Regions from separate parts of the Homo sapiens genome. Here region 2 is reported to be linked to region 1. Evidence: microRNA targets listed by miRTarBase, many of them from high-throughput screens and not tested one by one. Region 1 holds a microRNA gene; the other region holds the end of a gene's coding sequence.
The links. Region 1 holds the annotated microRNA hsa-miR-1271-5p (CUUGGCACCUAGCAAGCACUCA, at 2,479-2,500, shown strand). A microRNA usually pairs through its seed, bases 2 to 8, with sites in the 3' UTR of a target mRNA and lowers its output. Matches are read on the target gene's strand: a 7mer-m8 pairs with bases 2 to 8, a 7mer-A1 pairs with bases 2 to 7 and ends in A, and an 8mer does both.

Region 2: miRTarBase lists SPIN4 as a target of hsa-miR-1271-5p. Seed matches in the 3' UTR shown: 7mer-m8 at 879-885.

The regions. Positions count from the first base shown.
Region 1 is chr5:176,365,482-176,369,548 of GRCh38, forward strand. It overlaps MIR1271 (microRNA 1271), which reads left to right and starts at 2,465; the gene lies at 2,465-2,550. It overlaps ARL10 (ARF like GTPase 10), which reads left to right and starts at 6. Exons shown (of 4, transcript NM_173664.6): 1 at 6-265; 2 at 899-1,100; 3 at 3,326-3,501. The coding sequence starts at 83. RefSeq lists a silencer at 1-260.
Region 2 is chrX:63,346,758-63,350,824 of GRCh38, reverse strand. SPIN4 (spindlin family member 4) reads left to right here. Exons shown (of 1, transcript NM_001012968.3): 1 at 1-3,597. The coding sequence starts at 6. The coding sequence ends at 755. SPIN4-AS1 (SPIN4 antisense RNA 1) reads right to left here. Exons shown (of 3, transcript NR_046739.1): 2 at 1,091-1,185. Among named protein-coding and RNA genes, the nearest start is that of SPIN4, 2.5 kb to the left of the region's middle. RefSeq lists enhancers at 25-74, 175-304.

The DNA.
Region 1 (4,067 bases):
GCAGCAGTCGCAGCGGGGCCATCTTCGGCGGGCGAGTGGGCTCGGCCTGTGCAACCCGCACCTGCGTCCCTCGCCCGGCCCGATGGCGCCGCGGCCGCTGGGCCCCTTGGTGCTGGCGCTGGGCGGCGCCGCGGCGGTGCTGGGCTCGGTGCTCTTCATCCTCTGGAAGACCTACTTCGGCCGCGGCCGAGAGCGGCGCTGGGACCGGGGAGAGGCCTGGTGGGGCGCGGAGGCTGCCCGCCTCCCCGAGTGGGACGAGTGGGACGTGAGTGCCGGGCCGAGGCCTGCGGAAGGGCGGGCAGGCTGGGCTGCGACTCCGCGCATGTGGCCAAGGGGTGTGACCACGGAACGGCCCTGCTGGTGCCGGGAGCTTGGGGGGTCGAGGGCTTGGCAGCCGCAGCGCACAGGCCCCGCGCGGGTGGGCGGTCAGAGCCCGGGAACCGAGGAACGGGTGGGTGTGCTTGGGTGCGTGCGGCGCCTTGGCGCCACGCCGTCGCTCCACGCCATGAGGCTCGGGTGTTCCAGCGGGGGCCGGAGTTTGGAGGGCGCGGCTCGGGAGCATCCCGGGGCCCAGCCGGGTCGGCTCGCGCCCCTCCGGCGCCTGCGCAGTGCACCCCGCCCGGGGGTGGGGATGTCGGGAGAAACCCCATCCCCTCCCGCCTGCGGTCGGGACTCCGAGACCGGTGGAGGAAGCGGGGCGCGCGAGCGTTTAAGGAATTCGCCAAGGGTTTGGAATTCAGGACTGCAAAGGCGGCGTTCGTCCCACTCATCCAGACCATGCCTGCCTGTCCCAGGACGGGTGGAAGGCGGGCCTGGGCCCTCTGGTGCCTTCGGTCTTCCCTCGGGAAAGGTCCTTCGGGAGGCCGCCAGCCGCAACCTTACCTCCGCTTCCCCGCAGCCCGAGGACGAGGAGGACGAGGAGCCGGCGCTGGAGGAGCTGGAACAGCGCGAGGTGCTGGTGCTGGGGCTGGATGGCGCAGGCAAGAGCACGTTCCTGCGCGTGTTGTCGGGGAAGCCACCGCTGGAAGGCCACATCCCCACCTGGGGCTTCAACTCCGTGCGTCTGCCCACCAAGGACTTTGAGGTGGACCTGCTAGAAAGTGAGCGGACACCCTACCCCATCTCCCCGTCTCCTCTACTGGACCAGTCCTGGATTCTCTGCAGGGAAGGGGGCTTCCAAAATGCATGTCTAAGCAGCACATTCCCCTCTACGAATCCTTCCCACCGCTCTCCGGGGCACAGGATTCAGCCCACGCTCTGTGCTCTGACATTTAGGGCCCTTCGTGATCGGGCCTCTCCAGCTGCACCGCCTGCCCCATCACCCCTACCAAAGTCGATAGGCCTAACACAGAGATACTAACAGCTAAGGGTTCATATGCCAAGCACTTGACGGGCATTGCTTAAGAAAACTCCCCTAAACAATTACATAAAACTAGAATCGGTCACTACCCTCGTTATCTCCAGAGGAAAATGAGTTCCAGCAGTAGTATCATGAATCCAAGGTCACCCACCTTTCTAGTCTTTTTTTTTTTTTTTTTTTTTTTGAGATGGAGTCTCACTGTGACACCCAGGCTGGAGTGCAATGGCGCTGTCTCGGCTCACTGCAACCTCCTCCTCCCGGGTTCAAGCGATTCTCCAGCTTCAGCCTCCTGAGCAGCTGGGATTACAGGCGCCCGCCACCACGCCCGGCTAATTTTTGTATTTTTAGTAGAGACGGGGGTTTCACCACATTGGTCAGGCTAGTCTTGAACTCCTGACCTCAAGTGATCTGCCCGCTTCGACCTCCCAAAGTGCTGGGATTACAGGCGTAAGCCATCGCACCCCACCATTCTAGTTTTTTTTTTTTGGAGACAGGGTCTCTGTCGCCCAGGCTGGAATGGCAGTGGGCAGTGGCACACCCTCCTCCACTATTGCCTGTCTGGCCCAAACTAGTGTCATCTTTCCTCTCAGCACCACAGCCTCCTCTTTGGTCTTCCTGCTTCCCCTTCTGTCCCTAGTGTCAGCTAGAGAAAACCCATGTCAGGTAATGTCACTCTTGCTTAAAGCCCTTGGGGGGCTCCCCACCCCCTCACTGTGGTCTTTGGCCCCATGTGGCCCGCCCCAGCCAGCCTCACAGCCATCTCTTTCTCCTTCTTGCAGTGCCTCAGCACCCCAGCCTTCTTTCTGTTTCCCAGACACTTCCAGCATGCTCTCCCCTCTGTCTGGAATGCTTTCCTCTGCCTCTTCCCATGGCTGGCTCCTTCTCATCATCCCACTCAGCTCACATGCCACTTCCTTGATGAGACCTACCCAGACCACCCAATCCAGGGCCAACCCCTGTTCCACCTCAGCCACTTTCCCTTTTTTCTGTTTTATTTCTTTCCTTTTTGAAATGTGTTGATGTCATTGCCATGTCCTTCCCAGTTAGGGAGGGAGCTCCTTGGTGCAGGGCCCCTGCTTGCCTTGCTCACCTCTGTATCTGCAGCACCCAGATCAGTGCTTGGCACCTAGCAAGCACTCAGTAAATATTTGTTGAGTGCCTGCTATGTGCCAGGCATTGTGCTGAGGGCTTTGTGGGGATTCAGAGGTAAGTGCCTCTGACTCTCACAGCTTAGAATCCTCAAGTGTCAGAAACATAGCCAGAAACACTAGGGTGCGGGGTGACCAATGGGACTGTGCAGAGGAGCAGAGAGGAAAAGAAAGGTGATCCAGGCTGGGGGACTGTGTTGGCAACCATGTGTTCATAGGATGAAATATGACATTTCCAAGGGAAAAGAAGGGGATGGGGGAAACTGAATGGAGAATGGCTGTGTATAGGCAGGGCAGGGGGTCCTGAGTTTTCTAGACAATAGGACTCCTGGCTCCTGTCACAGCCATCACTGACAGTTTTGAACCTGTAGGAGAAAGCTAGGAATTAGCAAGAGGCAAAGCCAGACAACCCAGGGGAGAGAACTGAAGACTTCCATTTACTGAGCACCTGTGTGTCAGTCCCGTGAAAGGTACATCGCACGTGGTACCTGTGGGTTTTACTGCAACAACCCGTTAGGAAAGTTCAGTGAGGAGACTGGTGCTTAAAGCTAGGGACTTGCCCCAAGAGACCCGCCTATCAGAGCTAGAGCTAAATCCAGTCTGAGTAGCTGCGGAAACTGCGGTCTTTTCCTTGCCCCCGGCTGGTGGAAGCTCACTAAGCTAGAAGCAGGGTGGGGTGGGGGCTGTGGGCAGTGAGCGGGGGCCCGGGGTGGGGTGGGGGCTGTGGGCAGTGAGCGGGGGCCCGGGGTGGGGTGGGGGCTGTGGGCAGTGAGCGGGGGCCCGGGAGGCTCTGAGCTGGCCCCTGGCCTCTCCTCAGTTGGGGGCAGCCAGAACCTGCGCTTCTACTGGAAGGAGTTTGTGAGCGAGGTGGATGTGCTGGTGTTTGTGGTGGACTCGGCTGACCGACTGCGGCTGCCCTGGGCCCGACAGGAGCTGCACAAGCTGCTGGACAAGGACCCTGACCTGCCTGTCGTCGTGGTGGCCAACAAGCAGGTGAGGGCTGTGAGAGGGCAGCTCGGTCCAGGTGACATCCACTCAGAGATGCTTGGGCAGGGGCAAGGAGCGCTGCCTGGGCCCATGGCCTGGAGAGGGTGGCTGAGATGCTGCCCCCACCTCTTCTACCTATGCCCTGTCCTGATCCCTGCCTCTGTCTTCCTTCCTCTTTGCCTCCCTATCATCTCGTACTCTGGAGAGATGAGAAAAATAATTATTAAGTGCCTCCTATATGCCAGGCATGGTGTTTTGTTTTTGTTTTTTTTTTGAGACAGAGTCTTGTTCTGTCGCCCAGGCTGGAATGCAGTGGTGTGATCTCGGCTCACTGCAACCTCCACCTCCCGGGTTCAAGCAATTCTTGTGCCTCAGCCTTCCGAGTAGCTGGGATTACAGGTATGTGCCACCACACCCAGCCAATTTTTGTATTTTTAGTAGAGGTGGAGTTTTGCCATGTTGGCCAGGCTGGTCTTGAACTCCTGACCTCAAGTGATCCGCCCGCCTCAGCTTCCCAAAGTGCTGGAATTATAGGCATGAGTCACTGTGTCTGGCCCCCAGGTGTGGTTTTG
Region 2 (4,067 bases), not on the chromosome of region 1:
GAGCTATGTCTCCTCCAACCGTGCCTCCGATGGGGGTAGATGGCGTGTCCGCATACCTGATGAAGAAAAGGCACACCCACAGGAAGCAACGGCGCAAGCCCACTTTCCTCACTCGTAGGAACATCGTGGGCTGCCGCATTCAACACGGCTGGAAGGAAGGCAACGAGCCAGTGGAGCAGTGGAAGGGTACTGTGCTCGAGCAGGTTTCCGTGAAGCCCACTCTTTACATCATTAAATATGATGGCAAAGATAGTGTGTATGGACTAGAACTGCACCGCGATAAGAGAGTTTTAGCGCTAGAGATCCTTCCTGAGAGAGTGCCAACTCCTCGTATCGATTCACGACTGGCAGATTCCCTGATTGGCAAGGCAGTGGAGCATGTGTTTGAAGGTGAACATGGTACCAAGGATGAATGGAAGGGTATGGTCCTGGCGCGAGCTCCTGTGATGGATACTTGGTTTTACATCACCTACGAGAAAGATCCTGTTCTCTATATGTACACGCTGCTTGATGACTACAAAGATGGTGACTTACGCATTATTCCAGATTCCAACTACTATTTCCCTACAGCAGAACAGGAGCCTGGAGAGGTGGTCGACAGTCTCGTGGGCAAGCAGGTGGAGCATGCCAAAGATGACGGGTCCAAGAGAACTGGCATTTTTATACATCAAGTGGTGGCGAAGCCATCTGTTTACTTCATTAAGTTTGATGATGATATTCACATTTATGTCTATGGTTTGGTGAAAACTCCTTAAATTCTTTGTGCTCTTTAGAGAAGTTGTGGATCTGTTAGATGTGAATTATTTTGTGTTCTCGTAGTTGTGAACGCAGAGAAGAGTTTAGGTGTCAGAAATTCAGGAAAGTGGATAAATTTTATTGTGCCAACAAATCTTACCTTGACTAGTTTCACAATTTTGCCTCAAGTGTACTTTGCTACTTTTGATATTGCCTTGTTCTGTAACTTAACAGTTAAATTGGGTGCTAATAGAAAATTAAAAAGTGTTTGCAACCATTGGAACAATGCAAAAATAGATTAAGAAAAATTAATGGTGTAAACCCACACCCCGTCCTTACCCCTTCCTTTCCTTACCTTGTTTCTTCCCAGAAAACAAGTGTTGAGGATGCGAAGTACATCCTTCCACCTATTTTCCCCATCTTCATGCAGAAAGTATGTTCTAGTAGTTTCTGTAAAAATGGCAAGCCACATGCTTTTCTCACTTGACATGTAGATGATATCTCTTCTTATCAGTAGCTTCAGTCTTTCTTGCTCTCTCTGGCTCTCTCTGGCCCTCACTCTTACTCTCTTGCACTCTTGCTCTCCCCCTCCCTCCCTTACTCTAACAGCTGAATACACAGTACTTGTTGATGTACCAAAAAGGCATTCAACCATTTCGTTATTGATCGTCTTTTATTTCCTTTTTTTATTTTTTTTCAAAATAACACTGCTGTAATACATACTGGTGCTTTTATTTATATAGGTTGGATTCCCAGAAATACTATGTAGGCATATGTTTCAGAAATATTACAAGATTACTATCCAAAATGAAAGCGCCCGTTCCAGCGTCCTCTCCAGCACTCTTTAATGCTTGAAAATATGAAAGGCTAAAAATTGCATTGTATTGCTTGTTAGTTTAATTGCCTTTTGTCTGAGTTCAAAGAGGTTTGTTGTTGTTGCTGTCCTTGTTTCTGTTTGGATTTTTCTCTGATTTGCCTGTTCTTACCCTTTGCTCATGTATCTATTGATGTTTTTCATTATAAATTTGTAGAAATTCTTACTACATAGTGCATATTAATCATTTGTAGCTCTAATGTGTTATGACGTTTTCATCTTGACTTTATTGATGATATATTTTCCTTTAAAATTTTTAAACTTTTTAGGTAGACCCTTATCTCTTTTATAGATTTTGGTTTCCTTTTTTTATCACATGGATGCCCCCACCCAAAGTCATACAAATATTCACCTACATTTTCTTCTAATAACTTTATTATTTTTAATGTTTAAATGTTTGATCCATCTGAAATTTATTTTTGTATATGGTGTAAGATGGGGATCCAGCTATAACATTTTGTTCACATTGGATACCTGATTGTGACATTTATTTAAAATGTTACCCATTTTCAAATTTCTGAGCCAATATCATGATTTAATTATAGTGGCTTCATCGTAAGTTTTAGAATCCGATAAAGCAAGTCCCACTTCATTAGTTTTTTTTTTCTTTATATAATATGTCCTAGACATTCATTTTTTCATGTGAAAAAATGAAATGCAGAATTTTAATAAAATTCTAATTATGATGGCTGACATCACAATTAAAATCCTGCATTTTTGTTTAGAGGGCTCTTTAATAATATTAAATCTTAGCACTCAAGAGTCTTCGTACATCATTGAAATCTTTTGGTCTTGTTATTGGAATATTCTTCACGTAAGTATATCATAGCTAACTGAATTTATTTCTAAGTATTTTTACAGTTTTATTTCATATTTTGACATTGTGAATTGGTTTTTTTCTTCTCATTTGTAATTAGCTATTTTTGACAATATAGACAACCTATAGATTTTTGTATTTTTATCTTCTGTCTAATGAGCTTATTTAATCATTGAAATTACAGTAGATTTTTAAGAATATAATATTTTGGGTTTTCTAGATATGAAATTATTTCACCTGAACATATAGATCATTTTATTTCCTCTTAATGTTTATACTGATTACTGTTACATTAGCTGGATTTTTCAAAACAATGTTGAAGAGTGATGACAGACGTGACTGTCTTGTTCTTAATTTTCATGGAAGTAAGAATGCAAAATATTAATAGGGAATAGTATTCCCTATTAGTATGACATTTACTTTTGGTTATTAGTAGGTAGTCATTAACATGTTTAAGAGTTTCCGCTATTCCTGTTTTATAGTGTTATTGCTAGAAGTGGTTCCTGAATTTTATAAAATGCCTTTTCAGCATCTATTGATAAAATTGTATGATTTTTTTTCTCTTTAATTTGTTGATGTAATGAATTAGAATGGTAGGCATTTGATGTGGAACCAAACTTGTATTTCTGGAACAAATACTACTTGGTCATTGTGAAATAATGATTTGCTACATGAGTGGATTTTATTTACCAGTATTTAATTTAGAATTATTGCATTTTCATTCCAAAGTAAAATTGTATTTTGTCCTTCTGATGCTATCTTTATCAAGTTTTGTTATTGAAGTTGTGCTAGCTTTAAAAAAATATGAATATGTGAGTTTTCAATTTTTTTCCTGTGGTCTGGAATAATTTAAATAGCATTAGAATTATTTGTTTGTTAAAAGTTAGCTAGGACAAAGTGTAAAACAATCTAATCCTGATGACACTTTTAATAGTAGATTTTTAATCAGCTTTGTGATTTCTTTAATAGTTATTGGTTTATTCAGGCTTTTTATTAAAAAGGTATATACATTCTCTGTGACATACAAAGTTAAAAGTTCTCTATTATTGCTGATTGTACTGGTTGTTGCTTGTTGACTGTACTATTCAGATGGCTTTATGCTTTTGTGTATTTTATGTCACCTAGATCTAATTCTGAAAACATTGTAATAAAATAATTAGCTATAATGGTATTTTCAATTATCTTTGTATTTTATTTATCAAAATTAAATCAAAATATAGGAAAGTATGAAAGATATGACAAACATTTTCTCACCTCCACCCAAAATTAATAAGTGTCAACATTTTGGCCTATTTGATATAGATAGAGATATATATTATTAAACAGTCAGAAAATTACAGATAATAAATATCTTTCCCAGTACCATCCCACTTCCATTCTTTGAATAGGCAGACACTGTAATTAATTTGGTATGATTCTTGCCCATGTTTTATGTTTTTACTACATATTATCACCATAACTGATAATAGTATTGATTTTTATGTTTTTTTTTTTTTTAAATTTCCCCATGAATGATGAACTTTAAACCATGTGGAGTTTATTTTATGTTTTGTTGTAAGGATCTGTGTTTCTCCAGTGGAAAAACAGATTGCAACAACACAACCAATAGGACTGACCTTAGAATGCTAGTTACTGTTTCAG